Regions from separate parts of the Homo sapiens genome. Here region 1 is linked to region 2. A link means that fine-mapping ties the variant in region 2 to the expression of a gene that starts in the linked region. Tissue or cell type: esophagus muscle. Region 2 holds a variant in brackets; the other region holds the start of a gene. All regions are shown on one strand. Distances are from middle to middle.

Region 1 (8,339 bases), 66 kb after region 2:
ATGTTAGCGTACTTCACTGTTCTTTGTTGATTTAAGTAAGGTATCATAAGAAAGATGAACTCAGGCAAGAACTGGCTGCTTTGCAAGCAGAAATGGAAGGAAGTGAGAATGTCCAGAAATTAAGGGCCTCTCAGGGCTGAAGAAGACAGCTGTTTTTGTGACCCAAACATTAATAAAAATGCAGGGATCCAAGCCTTGTGGCAAGGATCAGAGTAAGGTATCGCCCTCCTAAGCAACACTATTATTTCAGCTAGCCTCAAGGTGGCCCTCCATTAAGATGAGAAAGTAAAGTATGGATACAAGGAAGCAAAGAAATAGAGCAGCCTTCAGAACTAGGACTAGAAAAGACTTTGCTGTTATTTCCACAAGCAACTGACTGGAAGCAATTAGATCAGAAGCCTATTACGGTTTTAAGGAAATCTAGTTGCCACAGAAACCATGAATCTGTTAGCTCCTTAAAGCAATACTCAAGCCTTCAAATTTTTATCAGCAGAAAAGGGGTTGTGAATGATATGCAGCCCCCTAGGAAGGCATTTTCTGTAACAGTCACTTCTGATATGGCTATGGAAAATTATGGACAAGGTAGTTCCTCTAAGAGAAGCAGAGTATCCCAAATGTCTAACCAAGGCACTTTCTGCACTGCCAGAACAGAGAGTCTCCATAATTCTTGCTCAGCTGTGAGTCAAAATTGCTGTGAACAAGAAGCTATGTGTATCTTTATCTTAATAGGAGCTTTTAAAAGCAGTCATCCTATGCCTGTGCCACTACTGTGTATGGGGTGTGGGAAGAGAGGGAGCAATATCTTGTTTAATGGTTTGTATGACACCAACTATGAGAAGTCATTTCAGAGCTTGATAGAGAAAACACACCGCTCTACTGTCTGCGTGGACATGGGCTGCATCCCACACCCTCACGTGGCTCTCTCCCTCACTTCATTCAGTCTCTGCTCAAATGTTACTTCCCCAAAGGTGACCAAAGCACTCCATCTACAATCACACCTCCATCATTTTCTACAACCGTAACCTCCCTTTATCCTCTCCTTACTCCTTTTTTCTCTACATAGTCCTTCTGTATTGCTCCCCCACTGGAATGTAAACCCTTTCAGGGCAGGACTTTGTCTTGTCCTTAGCTGAAATCCTAGCACCTAGCTAGAAATGGCCAATACATTATAGGTCCTTAATAAATATTTACTGAAAAGAAAAAAGACTATGAGCTTCTAAATTTGAAAGGTCTGAAGTTGTGTTTGTTTGATTCTGTTTTGCTATTTATCTGTATCACATTATGAATGGTCACAGAAAATTATTTGTGCACGAGAAAATTGAGATTACTACCTGCAAGGTGTCATTACCTGGTAAGAAGCCTATCAAAAGTTTGTCCTCCTGAAAAAGTAGTTATTGCTAAAAGCTAGCTGTTTTGATCTCATTCTTGCTCATTTGTTTTTAAGACTGAGATAATGAAATGTCACTCCCATGGCAACTCTGCCTCTTTTTCGGAATGATCATTGGTGGTCATAGTTGCAGCATAATAACCAGTTAGACCTTGGAAATCCTTTAGATTCTCCTTATTCCATGATTTAACAAAGACTGATATAATTAGCTACATTTTACTGAAGGGAGAAGCTAAAGTTCACAGGCAGAATTCAATTTAATCCAATCCATCTGTTTAATCTTTGCTGAACTTAAGCTTTGTGCCAGGCATTGTGCTGGGGATAAGGGATATAGTGACAAGACAGACACTGCCCTGGCCCTTCTATTGGTTAGACTAATGTCTCACGGGACCCAGAGTGGTAGGGAGGCAATGACAACACAATACATTAAGAGCTACCTTAGAGCATGCTAAGTGTAATAGAAGTATATAAAACACTAGTCTCAGCCAATCAAAAAGTCAGAAAAGGCTTCCTGGGGGACTGTCGGCTAAATTTAAACTCAAAGGGTAAGGGGAGATTGTCCAAATGAAGAAGGAAGAGGAATGAAGAGGAGGCTAAATTTAAATGAAGAAGGAGTGTTTTCTAGGCCAAAGCAAATATATGGAAAACAAAAGAAAGACGCATGTAGATGGGGCATTACACTTTTCCCTCCAGTTATTTATCCTGTTTTCATCCACCACTCTTCGTCTTTTCCTTAGATCTCCAGTTTTTTAGCCGTATATTACCCCCTTTCTCTCTAATCATCCATTGCACACAGTGAGGTTTATTTGTAAATCTAACCCAGGCACCAACTAACCAACCAACAAACAAAAACAGCTAAGGAGTAGCCACTGGAACCTGGAACCATGCCTACACTTACAAAAATTTGATTTTCTGCAGAAAAAATATTTTGACTCCTACATTTTTGGACTTCATTAGAAGGACCTGAAATGGATGACACCAAGCTGTTTGCCTAAAATAATGTCCCAAGCCTGAATTGGCATGGATCTTTCTTGAGATTAAAATAGAAACTTGTTTTGCTAACTGAAAACAACTTAGAAATCAAAGAGCCATTTAAGTTGAAACCATTATTTTTCCTTTCCTTGAAGAAAATTCCTGTTTTTACACACACTGAATGATCAGGATAGTGAATCACCCTACCACAGAACTTTCCATTAAAAATTTGAAGTTGTAGAAACCTCAAAAAGAAAATGAAGATGGGGGGAAAACGTTTGTAATGTAGCAAATGAATTGAATAAACATTTATGAGCACCTACTATGTGCCAGGCAGTGTTCTAGGTGATAAAGATACCTGCCTTTGTACAGCTTGCATTCTAGCGGAAAGAAAACATACAAACAAAAAATATGCAAGTTATATAGTAATATAAAAGATGAGTGGTATGGAGAAAAGACAAAGTAGGACAGGCCAAGGATCATCAGAAGGAGGGCAAGTTAGAGGTTTAAATAGGATGGTCATGACTGGCCTCTTCAAAGAGGTGTGACATTTGAGCAAAGACTGAAGGAAGTGAGGGCGTGTGCCATGTAGATATTTGCAGAGGGCAAGTTGCAGTTTTAAATAGGATGATCATGATTGGCCTCCTGGAAGAGGTGACATTTGAGCAAAGACTGAAGGAAGTGAGGGTGTGAGCCATGTAGATATTTGGGTCCAGATAGAGAAAACAGCCAGTTACTGGCCCCAAGGCAGGGGCATGCCTGGAACATGCAAGAAAGGCAAGGAGGCCATGGACTGGAGGAAGAGAAATGAGGACATTGAGAGGTACGGGAGATGACAGATGATCACTGCACAAGGCTGTCATTCGAGGTAAGGTTGGGAAGAGGGGTGACTTGATTGGGCTCATGTACATCTTAGGATAATCATGTTTTCATTTGAACACAGTCATTTAGTACAATACTTTTTACTCTGCAACAACTGAACAATGATTACTTAAAATGGTTTCTAAGTGATCCCCTCAAGATCAGGCACCACAACACTACTAGGCAGTAGCAGCCCTTCCTCTCTGGCAGGCACTCATCCCTAGAGGGGCAGTCCTGTCCTAATGTGCTCGGGAGTTGAGCTGATAGAGACAGAAACAGTCTGCTCATTTCTTCTTCAAAACCCGACTGGAGAGCCAAATATTTCTTTTGGTTAGTTACAAAATAAAAAATATGCCTTTGCCAACTCTGCGGGAAAAGCAAACTCCCAGAGTTTGCCTTCGCTAATTTGTCCAAGTCGTGCTGTGGTTTTAGTAAATGCAGACACTGCTCAGCTCCAGCCCCATAAACCTCTCTGCTCTAGGGCTTCTCCGCCCTCCGGTGAAAGCTACTGCTCGCCCCTGCAGTCACCACCTGTTCGGGCGGAACCTGCGGAGCGTGCACCTACGCCTCGGGCTCCTTTCCTCCTCCACTCCCCTTTCCTGCTGGGCACCCTGCTTTCCCTCTCCCAGAGAGGGTTTGCAACTTTTCTCCCAGGCTGGGGCTCGCCCTGCTTGGCTAACCCCCAAGAGCCACTGCCGTCCCGCAGCGCCCCTGCCCCCGAGTTGCCTGCCCCGCTGGGCCCCCGGGAGGAGCGGAGCGCGCTCACCCTTCGCCCGGGGCTGGGAGGGCGGCGAGTCGGGCGCACGCGCACCCCCTGCCCGCCCCTGGCGCCCCTCCCCGCGGGCGGTGCAGCTACCCCTGCAGCGCCTCCCCTAGCTAGAAGGGAGCGGGAGGGGGCTCCGGGCGCCGCGCAGCAGACCTGCTCCGGCCGCGCGCCTCGCCGCTGTCCTCCGGGAGCGGCAGCAGTAGCCCGGGCGGCGAGGGCTGGGGGTTCCTCGAGACTCTCAGAGGGGCGCCTCCCATCGGCGCCCACCACCCCAACCTGTTCCTCGCGCGCCACTGCGCTGCGCCCCAGGACCCGCTGCCCAACATGGATTTTCTCCTGGCGCTGGTGCTGGTATCCTCGCTCTACCTGCAGGCGGCCGCCGAGTTCGACGGGAGGTGAGCTGGGCCCCGGGGCGCCCTCTCCTCCTTCCCGCGCTAATTTCACACTCACTGTCTTGGGTCACTTTTCCCCGCGGGGTTTCGTGGTCAGAGAGGCGTCTCCTCCATCCAGAAGTTGGGCCACCGCACAGCGTGGCGCGAGGAGAGCGGTCCAGCGGCTCCGAGTGCCCGCCCGAGGCGGAGAGGGCGCGCCCTTGCGAGTCTGGGACCCCATCCGCGGCCCCCCGAGGGCGACTCGCCCCGGCTCGGGAATTAGGACTGAGGGAGAGGAGCCGCTGGAGCCTGGGATCTCGGCTCTGAGGGCGCGGTTTAGCCACCTACGCCGAGGTGACGCGCGAAACATCCCTTACCCGGGAAACTCCCGCGCCTGAACTAGACGGCTCTTCACTGGGGAAGCTTCCAGGCCCCCGGGGGGAGGCCCGGGCTCTGCTCAGGGCTCTCGGGGCCGCTCACACAGAGAGTGGGTGCGAGTCAGCGACTGGGCTACGGGGGAGATTTGTGGGCCTCTCCATTTGGTTTTCTTGAGGGAAGGAGACTCAAAATGAGGACCGGAGGGTGGGCGCTCCGTGAATGTGAGCATGAGTGTGTGGATGTGTGTGTGAGAGCGCACACACTGCGCCGCTCCTCAGACTCGGGCGAGCCTGACGGCGGCGTGCTGTGACAGGTTCCAACAACCTCGGGCCGCGTCTCCGCTGTCACTCAGCCGGTCCTCCCGCGCTCCGGGGCCGCTCCGGTGTGTGAGAGACACTGGGTCTGTCGGGAGGGTGTGCTCGGTCCCCCTCACCTCTGTGCAATTACAGACTAGGCTCGTCCCGGGTGCAGATGGCTGCTGCGAAAAGAGGTTTTACTCTGGCGCACACCGTCGCCCGGTCGCCTTCCTTCAGCGACCTCTGCCCCCACCCCTCCGTGTAGGTCCCTGCCTAGTCCTAAAGAAAGATGCCGCACCTGTTTTACCTTTAATCTTGGAACGAATCAATTCCACAATTGATTCGCTTTCTTGTACCCGGAGGCGAACGGAGGGGAACCAGTGGAGCGCCAAGAAAAAGCACAGCTGCTTGTTCACTACCTGGTCGGAGGAAATAGAAAGTTCGGGGTTATTTTGTACTTTGGGCCTGGGGGTAGAAAGGCAGGTAAAAGAAAAGGGGAATTGAAAAAGATAAGGAGACTTTAAGAAAACGTGATAGCAGCCAGAGTGTAGACCTTTTTATTTTATTTTTAAAAGCAATTCTGTGCTCACATTTGGGTATGTTATGCATTTCTTGCACACATATTTGCAACAAGAAACCCATCACAAGATATGCATATGATGTGAATGCATATAGCTTTTTGTAACTTTAAAAAGATGTCTAAAACAGCAAATTAAAATGTTGATACCCAGAGGAAAAAAGTCATTTAGGTGTGACTCTAAACAAGGAAACAATTTAGCAAATAATGTGTCAACGTGTAATCAGGTGGATAAATCTGTATCCTGAAATTACTTTCTTTAGGCATTATTTACATTAGAGAGGAAAATACTATGAATTGTTGATCTAAGCACGTTTCAAACCACAAGGATACTTGAGATATCAGCTACACTTTAAACTCTCCTTGGTTTTATTTAGACTTTTTTCTAGTACTTTTTTGTTTTTTTTGTTTCTGCCACAGTTATGTCTCAAAAAGAGCTCTGTTACACTTGATTTTTGAGAAACCTTTCTGCTCCTTCCCCCATCCACCTTTTATATGAGGCAGAAATTTTTTCTGCTTTGACATGTCTTACTTAATACTTTTCAGTTTATGGTGAATCAGTCAAACCTGGCTTTCACCCCAGTAACAGGTGTGGGTCTTTGAGGAATCTGTTTTATTTCAAGCTTCAGAAACTATCCTGTGAGTGGCAGCCTTGAGAATTGTTGGTGTTAGCTGGTGCTATTTCTACTTAAGAAAGCATCTTTCCCTCCCGTTTTTTCTCCTACCCTTGTGTGTTGGGGGATGGGGTATTTAACTGTCTGAAATTTGACATTAGATCATAGCAGAACTATTTCTGTGAAGGTGTTTTAACCTTAAATTTCTGCAGGCATAAAAGAGTTTGTAGAAAATTGTTGGGTGTGGTTGACATTTTTTCTGAAGTAATAATACAGAGGAAATTACCTTTCTTCTCAAAAGTGTCCTTATTTATTTTGAATCTTTTTTTTTGGTAGGTGGCCCAGGCAAATAGTGTCATCGATTGGCCTATGTCGTTATGGTGGGAGGATTGACTGCTGCTGGGGCTGGGCTCGCCAGTCTTGGGGACAGTGTCAGCGTGAGTATCAAGCCTGGGGACTTCAGTTCCCTGGGAGGTGTGGCTTTCCACCTTGTTCATGGCTTCACCCCACATATCAGAGGGTTCATTACTGAGCAAGGCTTGGCCTTGCAGGTCTGACTTGGGGATTTTCAGGTACAGTCCAGACTCCTTATTCTGCTTCTTTTCAGCTTTAGCCACCTGTATTACGGCCCAGCTTTGTCATTCACAGAGAGCCACCTTAAATGTTTCTTTTAGCATTTTTCCCCCCAAATCTGCATCTCCTTCCTGTTTTCTTACCAGGTTTATTTCTCTCTCTCTCTCTCTCTCTGTCTCTCTCTCTCTCTGTCTCTCTCTCTCTCTCTCTCTCTCTCTCTCTCTCTCTCTCTCTCTCTCTCTCGCTGACTCGCTTGCTCCAGGCTGGGAGATGGGGATAAGATAATGAGTCTAGACCGTATTTACACTGGGGATAAGATAATGAGTCTAGACCGTATTTACACAAAATAAACTCTGAACCTTAGAGTACTTATATAATCCTCACCATAGCTGTTGTGTAAAGTGGCCCATTTGTAAATCCTTTTTTGGACTGGGGTTGTATTGACAGTGTTTTAAATGGACCACCCAGTATAATGAAACAAAGCCACTGAAACAACATTATTTGTAAGTTCTATAAGTAACCAACCTCATGTAATAAGTACCAAATCAGAAAGCTGATTTTCACCTTTTCTGTGACCACAAATGGATATTTTAATGGTAAAATTTAGAGCTACATCAAAAGAGTTTGAGAAATTTAGGAAATTTGTCCCCAGCATTTTATCGCGATCTTAAAATTGTATCTCACTCCTACTGCAAAAAAATAGTCTTCAAATGATCAAGTACCTTTCCAGAGCACCCTTAGAGTGCTTGGGGCGGGGGTAGGGGGCACTTCTGGTAAGATGATGGGAACTAAGTTGGGTTCTACATTGGGATATATATTTTATTGCTAATGAGGAGGAGGCTTAGAGGAAGAGAGAAGGGCAGTTACGAAGGCTAGAGCTGGCAATGGAGAAGCCTGCCTTAGAGATGGGTTGCTAGTGTGAGGAGTCAGGCAAATTTAAGTTCAGGAAAGTTAGGAGTTCCCTCTGCTATTTTAATTTTTGAGGATGCTTGCAATGTCTTCCTTAATTTTGTGAAAGAGGGACAGTGACAGTCACAGATTGACTCTAATTGCACATAAAGACCACAATCTCTGGTTGGGAATAGAAAGGTAAAGGAAATGAATGTTTGCCTACCTGGTATGGAATTTGAGAACCAACAGATTCTAATAACCAAAATGTGAAGAAAGGACCCTTCTGTTGGCCCAACACACCTACACATAACCCTCCTGAGTGAAAAATGAGTAGTTCTATACCTGCAGTCTCCAGCTGTGCAAATACTTCTGATACTACAGAAGACTAAATTCCACCAGGCACCATTCTTCTTTTTTGATCATCTTCCCTTAAAACAATATTGAATAGACTAACCAGTGAGTGTACAGCAGCTTTGCCTACTTCTTTTGTTTACTGGAAACTGGAGTTACCACCATCTCCCTTTAACAGAATGTAATTGACCCCCCGTGCAAAGGGTCTAGCCAAGCAGCTCGCACATAGCAGTTAGGCAAACATTCGTTTGCTTCACCTTTTATGTTTATACTTCCAAAATCAAAGTAGTTCCAAGGTTTTC
Region 2 (8,339 bases):
ATACTTCCTGCCACAGAATAGAGGCTCAATATAATACGTTCTACATTATTAAAGCTATGAAATATAGTGATAATGCTTTGCCTAATGTCTGAATTATGTTACTAAATATACTATTGTTTTCTGGGTAAAATCTAGGTTACATTAATAGAAAACAAGGAATTATCATTAATTCGTGCTAAGAAGAGAAGTGATGAACTGGGTTTAAGCAACATTTGGTTCATTCAAGCAAATATGGAATATTTTACTGGGATGTTTAATATTGGAGTAAGTAATCAAGTAATTTCAATTTCTTTAATTAGCTAAATAAGAAAAATTACATGCCTTAGAGTAAATAAAAAAGATAATTTTGTGTTCTTTGCCAAACAAATTTATAATTTTGTATACTTATATTATCTATGAAATATAGCATATTAATGAATATTATTATATTCATAGCACTTCATCATTACATAACAGAGATAACATTGGCTCCTCTATCAGACCAGAACTTTATTTTCTTCACTACAGAATCCCCAGTAGCAAGTGCTGAAAACTGGTTAATAATTGAATAATTGATTCTGATGAACATGACTTGCCTTGGTTTATTCTGCATTTTTAGAAGACAATGAAGGAAAAGAAAAAAGAAGAAAAGAAAATAACTTGTTAGTAATCTCTAAATACAAGCATTGCCTTGTGATTTTTTTTAGCTAAGATTTTATATTTACATGTATTTTCAGGTTCCAAGAGAGAAAGTATATTGATCATGTTTCTAAACCTTTGGATCAAATTGTTATTATTTGATATTATGAAAAATCCCTAAGATATGTAATTCTGCCTGATCATTAAACCCCAGGGTTTTATTATTTTTTGTAGACTTTGAGTTTTATGAACATGTTAGTGTTGCTGCTATTTCTTATATTTGCTTTAAATAATTTTTTTTCTGATTTTGATAGGAATATACATTTTGATAGTAATACAGAAAAATACATAGTAATATAAAGAAGAAATAACCTATATGCCTACTATCAAGTGATAAATACTATCAAAAATCTTTAGTTTTTTATATTTATGCACGCATATAAATGCATATTTTACACATATGTGAACATTGTTAAGACCATACTACATAGATCCTGCATTGACTGAATACTGTTAAAAATCTTTTACCTACTTTTTAATCATACTTTTTTTTCTCATTGTTATAATGCAATTATTACTATGATGGATATTTTATGCATCCTTTAAGAATTTTGATGCATTTGCCAAACCACTTTCCAGGAAGGTTCTTACTGACATCCTTTCTAATTACATATGTTCATATAAACATGTGGTTGTCTAGGTAGAACTTTTATCAACTTAACTAATTCAGACCTTTTATAGTATTTCTGATTTTTACCCAGTGAAATTTATTTCTTAAATATTGACTACTGCAAATTTGGGGGTTTATTGTAATTTTTTTCCAACCTAAAAAATATGCTATTCGTTTCCTTTGCAGACACGATCTACAGTTTACTTCTCTTTTTATAAGCCTGGCTGTTAATAAGGAAATTCAGGAAAATGTAGACATGTAATCTAGAAAATTCAAATTAAAAAATACCTGTGCAGCTTTAACTTTACATAAATGTTGAGGTAAAGTTTAGCGCTTCTCCCATGAAACAAGCCATTAAACCAGTCCAGATATTACCAGTACACCAGACAGAATGGTAGCAAGTAAATGTGGACTGCTACCCATTTATTTACCTCACAAAGCATGGAATTTCCAGCCTATGTCTGTTCCATCCGTCTCTTGGCCCTTCATGACTTATAGATGCTAAATCACTCTAGCATATTCTTGTAACTTCCAAGTGTATAATTTACTAATGCCAACTAAAAATGTATATATCTCTTTGGAAGTGAAATTTTTCTCTACATTTTGTAATACATCTATAATGACTTTTTTTCCTTTCATAATTACCCTTGTCAAGGTGTATAGAAAATGGATTAAAATTGCTTAGAAGGTTAAATTAAAAGTAGATTCACTCTGAAGAGAATAATTTGCCTAGGAGAGTAATTGAGATATTGTCACTAGGTAAATTAGACTAAATGCATCAGAGGTTCTAACTCCTGTGTTAAATGTGTTCCAGTATACACACAAAAAAATTTAAAAAATATTGTGGCTAGAGAGGAAAGCAGAATAACCAGATATTGGAAATGCATTAAAACTGCATAAATTCATGGTTTTGTGACATTTCAATAAGGGCTTAGTTAGCATTTATCTTTGCTTAGTAAATGCTTTATTTTTTTCATTTACTATTTTTCTTTAGATATAAAAATTAATAGTATAAACAAGATTTTAATGAAAGAATTTTAAAAGACTTAGAAACAACTAAGTCTTTTTAAATTATTAAATTTTATAATATGTGTATTAATACCCATGCTCTCAAACAATATTACAAATATTTATTTGCAAATAGTATTACATAAAGGGTCATGACTATGGAAAAATGCTCATTTTGCATTAAAAACAAAAACCGTATCAAGGCTAAACAGCCTGCCACCAACATGTTTAGTTGGAAAATTTCAACAATAACAAACAGTCATTTCAACCAGATGATAAGGTACTGATTTCTAACAGTATTGGCGAATCCTTTCTGTTCATCAACATGTATATGAAAATCTCAAAACAGTTTTATTTTCTAGTTATTGGTATTTGCTTTTTGCTATTTTGCCCACAACATAATTTTTAATTATTGTTTATCACTCATAAGTGCTGACTAGTTAATTATAAGCTCATTTCTATTTATGTATGTATGTTAGTGTACAATTAAAAGAAGCATGTGTAATTATAGACTGTAATTCAGTAACATTTTTGATGAGTAATTATATAATCCTTGTTTTAAAAGATAAGGACCTTGAGAAATTATATATTCTGCAGGCACGCTTTTTAAAAATCATTAAGGCAAAATAGGGGACTTCTGAGATGAAAATAGCAGATAGAGGTATTTCAACCCCGCTTCTCCCCAAAAAAGTTCAGATCCCCAAATAACAAGAACAAGAATCAGAAAAATCAAACTCTATGATGAAGCTATATTCAACATTCTGTAACTTGAATCACAATATGAAGTGTGAAGGTGAAAAGCAGATTGAAGAAAAATGATAAGTTATTGAGTAGAGGAGAAGGAAGATAAAATTTAAATGCATGCCAGGCAGAGTGGCAAGAAGGCTATCAGGACACAAACCACTTTGCTCCCACAGAATCCCAGAAAAGTTTGGGAATTCAGAGCATCAGAAACCTCAGAGGAAATGAATAGGGAGGGACTGAAATCGTGTTTAATTAAAAATATTATTTAGAGACAAGATTCCTGCTCTCGTCTTGTGTAAACAAGAAACTACCTCTCCCCAACTCCTAAGAGAGACAGGAAGTTTATTCTGTAGAAGAAACTGAACCAGAGAGGCACCAAGTATAGAGATATCAGGCATAGAGAAGGGCAATGGTGATGTGCCATACCAAGAATAAGAACTAAATGAGAATCTGCATACTGAAGGATAGATCTCTTCCCTACCCATCTGCCTTCTAATTCCAGAACCACAGAAACCAGGATCATTTCCACAATCATGAGAATTAAAAGATTCTTCTCTGTAGAAGCAGAACTGTCCCCAGAGAAAAGAACTACAGATACTACAGCTATAATTAAAAAAAAAAAAAAAAAAAAGAAAGGCACCT[A/G]TCCAGGCTTTTTGATCACCCAATCACTGGTGAAGCCCACCAGTTTTCAAAGCCTTACTCTTTCATTCAGAATTTCCAATCAACTTTTTAGTGGTTTACTCTTTAATATGAACAGCTAAAGGAATACCAAACATGGAAAACTTCCAAAATGGAAGATAGAGACCTGTATTAGTCTGTTCTCACACTGCTAATAAAGACATACCCAAGACTGGGTAATTTATAAAGAAAAGAGGTTTAATTGATTCACAGTTCCACATGGCTAGGGAGGCCTCACAATCATGGAGGAAGGCGAATGAGGAGCAAAGTCACATCTTACATGGTGGCAGGCAAGAGTGTGTGCAGGGAAACTCCCCTTTATAAAACGATCAGATTTCATGGGACTTATTCACTATCATGAGAACAGCATGGGAAAGACCCACCCCCATCATACAGTTACCTCCCACTGGGTCCCTTCCATGACATGTGGGAAATATGGGAGCTACAATTCAAGATGAGATTTGGGTAGGGACATAGTCAAACCATATCAAGACCAAAGCAACAAACATAATCAAGGGTCTTAGGGAGAGACTAAAGAAGATAATACATTAGTGAAACAAGGATATAATAGAAAAAGAGGGAACGATCAGAGAACAAGAAAGGACGTCTTGAAAAATAAAAATGTTAGCCAAAATTGAAAACAAATTAAAAATTAAGAGATAAAGTATTTTTTTAAAGAAGTATAGGATACCACTTGAAAAAAATAGAACTTAAAAAAAAGAAAAAGAAAAATGAAACTGGAAAGAAGCAAATTTTTTAAATTAGAGATTTAGTCCAGGAATCAAATACCTCAGTAATAGCAGGACCAGAAAAAGAAAACTGGTAAATCGTGGGGAGGAAAACATCAAAGAAAATACAGGAAAATGTGTTAATAATTAAGAATGCATTTCTTTTGATAAAGTTAACTTACAAAATGGCCTAAGCCAAGGCACCTTGTGAAATTTCAGAACACCAAGGGTGAACAGATTTTCCCAACTGTTTCCACAGAGGGAAAAAAAAATAGTGATATACCATAATTTAGAATCAAAATGCTATCACACTTCTTAATAGTAGTGTGGAAGGCTCAGTGACAGTGAAACAATATCTCGAAAATTCTAACAGAAAACTTCTAATCTAAAATTCTATACCTAGCTAATCCATCAGTCTAGTAAAAAAAAGTAAAATAAAGAAAAATTCGACAGTCAAGGTCTCAATAAAATGTACATTGTACATACCCCTTTTCAGCAAGCTACTAGATAATGTGCTTCATTAAAATATAAAGTAAATAAGAAAAAGGATTAAGTGGTATCCAATACAAGAGAAAAATTTTTAGTATCATGGGAGAGGGAAGTCTTAGGGCAAGAGCTGGGCAACAGGCCTAGAAAGCATTGAGTCCATATTTTAGTAAAACGTCAGAAAGCCCAGGAAAGATGTCTCTAGGAAAGAAAAAATGGAGCTGACCAATTATTTGAAAGTTTTCAAACAGTGGAAATTTATATTGTAGAGCATTTTACAGAGCTTTTGGGTAGGGAACAACTTGGATGTTAAAAAAACAAGCAGAAACCCTGATATCCAGCACACTTCCCTCGGCAGTGAACAGTATATACAAAACCATGAGAAAAGATGGAAAAAGGGAAGATAGTGTATAAATGTGCAAAAAAAAGGCCAAAAGCTCTTCTCTCCTAGTAGAAAGATAATAAATAATGTCTAATATTTACAAATCAAGAGATATCAATATACGTTCATCATATAGAAAAACAGATTTTCAGGAAGTAAACCAATGAGTTGAACAGCATTGACTTTGGTACACAGATTTTCTTTCAGTGGTGTGGCAGTGTGTACAAAACAGGGACTTTTAATATAATTGCATACCTTTTAGCATTATTTGAATTTTAAAGCTGATTACCTATAATATTGTTGTATGAAAGTTTTAAAAGAGGGGAAACAAGAGTACACAGGTGGGACTAGCCTGCTTCTCTGTCTAAGGTATCTAGAGTTAAGAATCCTTCTTCGAAAAGCAACACCGGAGAGAATGATTGGGCTGGGGCAAGTTTAGAGATCATTCAGTTCAACCTTCTCCTTTTACAGGTAGAGAATTTGAGGCTACAAGAAAGGAAGAGTGACCTAGCAAGTTAATGTGGGGGCTGGGTCTAGAAGTCCAGTCAGTGACTCTCTGTTTACTTCCATATCTAAAGAAAAGAGTAAATAGAGCATAGAGAACTAAAAAAAGAAGTTTGGTTTGGAGTCAGACACATTGAGATTAAATCTTGGCTCTTTGTTAAAAAAAATATTAACAATTATTTCTCTTACTTGGAGCAATATTGACCAATTTTTGTTTAAGAACTCTTTGCTTGTTTTTGTTTGTGTGTTCACATCTCTTGCTCATTTTACTCTCACTTTATTGGGCTTTTTCTTTCTTTTTAGAAGTTTGTTATATATTAAGAATATAAGCCTTTTGTTTGTGCTGTAAGTTGTCAATCCTTTCCCTACTTTGTCATTTGTCTTTTTACTTATGGTTTGGTTTTCTGCCAGTCTCTACTGAAAATACAAAAATTAGCTGGGTGTGGTGGTGGGCAGCTGTAATCCCAGCTACTTGGGAGGCTGAGGCAGGAGAATTGCTTGAACCCTGGAGGCAGAGGTTGCAGGGAGTCGAGATCACACCGTTGCACTCCACCCTGGGTGACAAGAGCGAAACTGCATCTCAAAAATAAATAAATAAATAAAAATAAATTTTATTTTGTCAGATTTATTAACCTTACCCCTTATTGCACGTAGATTTTTAGCTTAGTTAGGAATTACTTCCCATTCCCCTTGGTTGTGCAGGAATTTACTCATATTTATTGCATTTTAAATCTCTAATGCATTCAAAATTTATTTCCTATGTGTGATGAGAGGAAAAGATCTAATTTTTATTTTTTTATATGGCTGTCTGGTTAACCAAACATTACTTATTAAAAAGTCCATCTTTTCTCCCTGGTTTGAAATACCACCTTTATTGTATGATAAATTTCCATATCCAATGGTTTTTTTTTGGTCTATATCTCTCATTATTTGCCTGTTATTTCTGAGTTTCATTTGATAACAGTGAAAACTAGGAGCATGTGATGCAGTAAAACCTTTTCGACCAAAAACCTATTATTAGTAGACAATTATTACATTATCTATAAACTATTGTATAGTTATTCAAGTTACTTATTTCATTTAAATGAAGGAAATAAACTCACTTTTTTGCATGTAGTGTAAGGAATGTGAACCTAAGTAAAGAGAGACTTATAAAAGTAAATTTTCTAAACTCTTTTTTGCTCAGAGCCTGAAGAGGGTTTTGTAGAGAAGCCGCCTGATACATGGGGTCAGGCTTTGAGGTCAGCATCCTGCCCCTCAGTAGCTGTTTTGTTGTGGGCAAGTTCTTAATTTCCCAAGACTTCATTTCCTCGCATCTAAATTGGAGATAATAAAGTCTTTCAGGGATGTTGTGAGCATAGTTCTGAGTGCCATCACCCAGCACAGCATAGTGCCAGCACATAAACACTCAGTAAATGTCAGTTTGCTTTCCCTCCAGGGGAAGATGTGTCTATAATTTTTACTATGAAATTTTCTCCAACTAGTCATGAAAATAAGGATTAGCCTGTTTTTTACTCTGAAAAGCTGACTAAAAGAAGCAGATGAGAAATCAAGGTTATTTACTTTCCCATTCCCTGTAGTTGTTGCTGCCTTTACTGGATACCAGCCTTCCTAGGCTGTTTTCAGAGTGAAACAAGAAAGGTGGGATGACAGCAACATGGAGATTGTTGACTTCTATGTGGCTCATGTAAGTCTAGAAGGAGGAGGAGGAATTCAGGAGGAGGATTAAGAACAGAGATCTTGCTTTCCTCTTCCTGATAGAGTATTGTTTGTATTGTTTTTAGCTTTCCAGTTCAAAGGGGGCATCTGGTTTATAATATTTTACTTTCGCTGGGCGCGGTGGCTCATGCCTGTAATCCCAGCACTTTGGGAGGCCGAGGTGGGCGGATCACCTGCGGTCGGGAGTTGGAGACCAGCCTGACCAACATGGTGAAACCCCATCTCTACTAAAAATACAAAAGTATGCAGGCGTGGTGGCACATGCTGTAATCCCAGCTACTCGGGAGGCTGAGGCAGAAGAATTGCTTGAACCCGGGAGGCGGAGGTTGCAGTGAGCCGAGGTTGTGCCATTGCACTCCAGCCTGGGCAACAAGAGCAAAACTCTGTCTCAAAAAAAAAAAAAAGTTTCTAAAATTTACAGAAAATCTCCTCTTTACCCTGAGAGCCCCTCCCTACCCTGAAGTTGGTGAGGGAAGATTATAATTCATTACAATTTATGTTTGTTCAGAATGAAATGGAGATGTGAGGGGTTTTTTTGGTGTTTTTTGTCAAAATCCAGTACAGGTTATTCATCTTTTAGAATCCCCACATCTGATTTTCACTGAGAGTCCTATTTAGGCTTTATTTGGCCTAAGAATTTTCATAATTATCTCATTTGTAGTAAGATTATAGTAAGTATAGATATACTTAAGGATATGTGTTTTAAAAACACTTAAAAATCGTTTTGAGTTATTTTTATGAGTTATTGAAGCCCCACTCAGTATTCTAATTCATAATTTCATTCAATCCTTTTAAAATAAAC

What was found. PIP is the estimated chance that this variant, and not a neighbour inherited with it, causes the effect.
Region 1: it holds the start of NPNT, and the variant in region 2 is fine-mapped to the expression of NPNT in esophagus muscle (GTEx, PIP above 0.99).

What each region holds. Positions count from the first base shown.
Region 1 is chr4:105,891,343-105,899,681 of GRCh38, forward strand. NPNT (nephronectin) reads left to right here and starts at 4,129. Exons shown (of 12, transcript NM_001033047.3): 1 at 4,129-4,381; 2 at 6,559-6,659. The coding sequence starts at 4,311. RefSeq lists silencers at 2,838-2,887, 3,812-4,381, 4,542-4,751, 4,990-5,284.
Region 2 is chr4:105,825,537-105,833,875 of GRCh38, forward strand. GSTCD (glutathione S-transferase C-terminal domain containing) reads left to right here. Exons shown (of 12, transcript NM_001370181.1): 8 at 136-264. GSTCD-AS1 (GSTCD antisense RNA 1) reads right to left here and starts at 1,636. Exons shown (of 4, transcript NR_125927.1): 1 at 1,577-1,636. The variant A/G (reference allele first, on the strand shown) is at 3,683.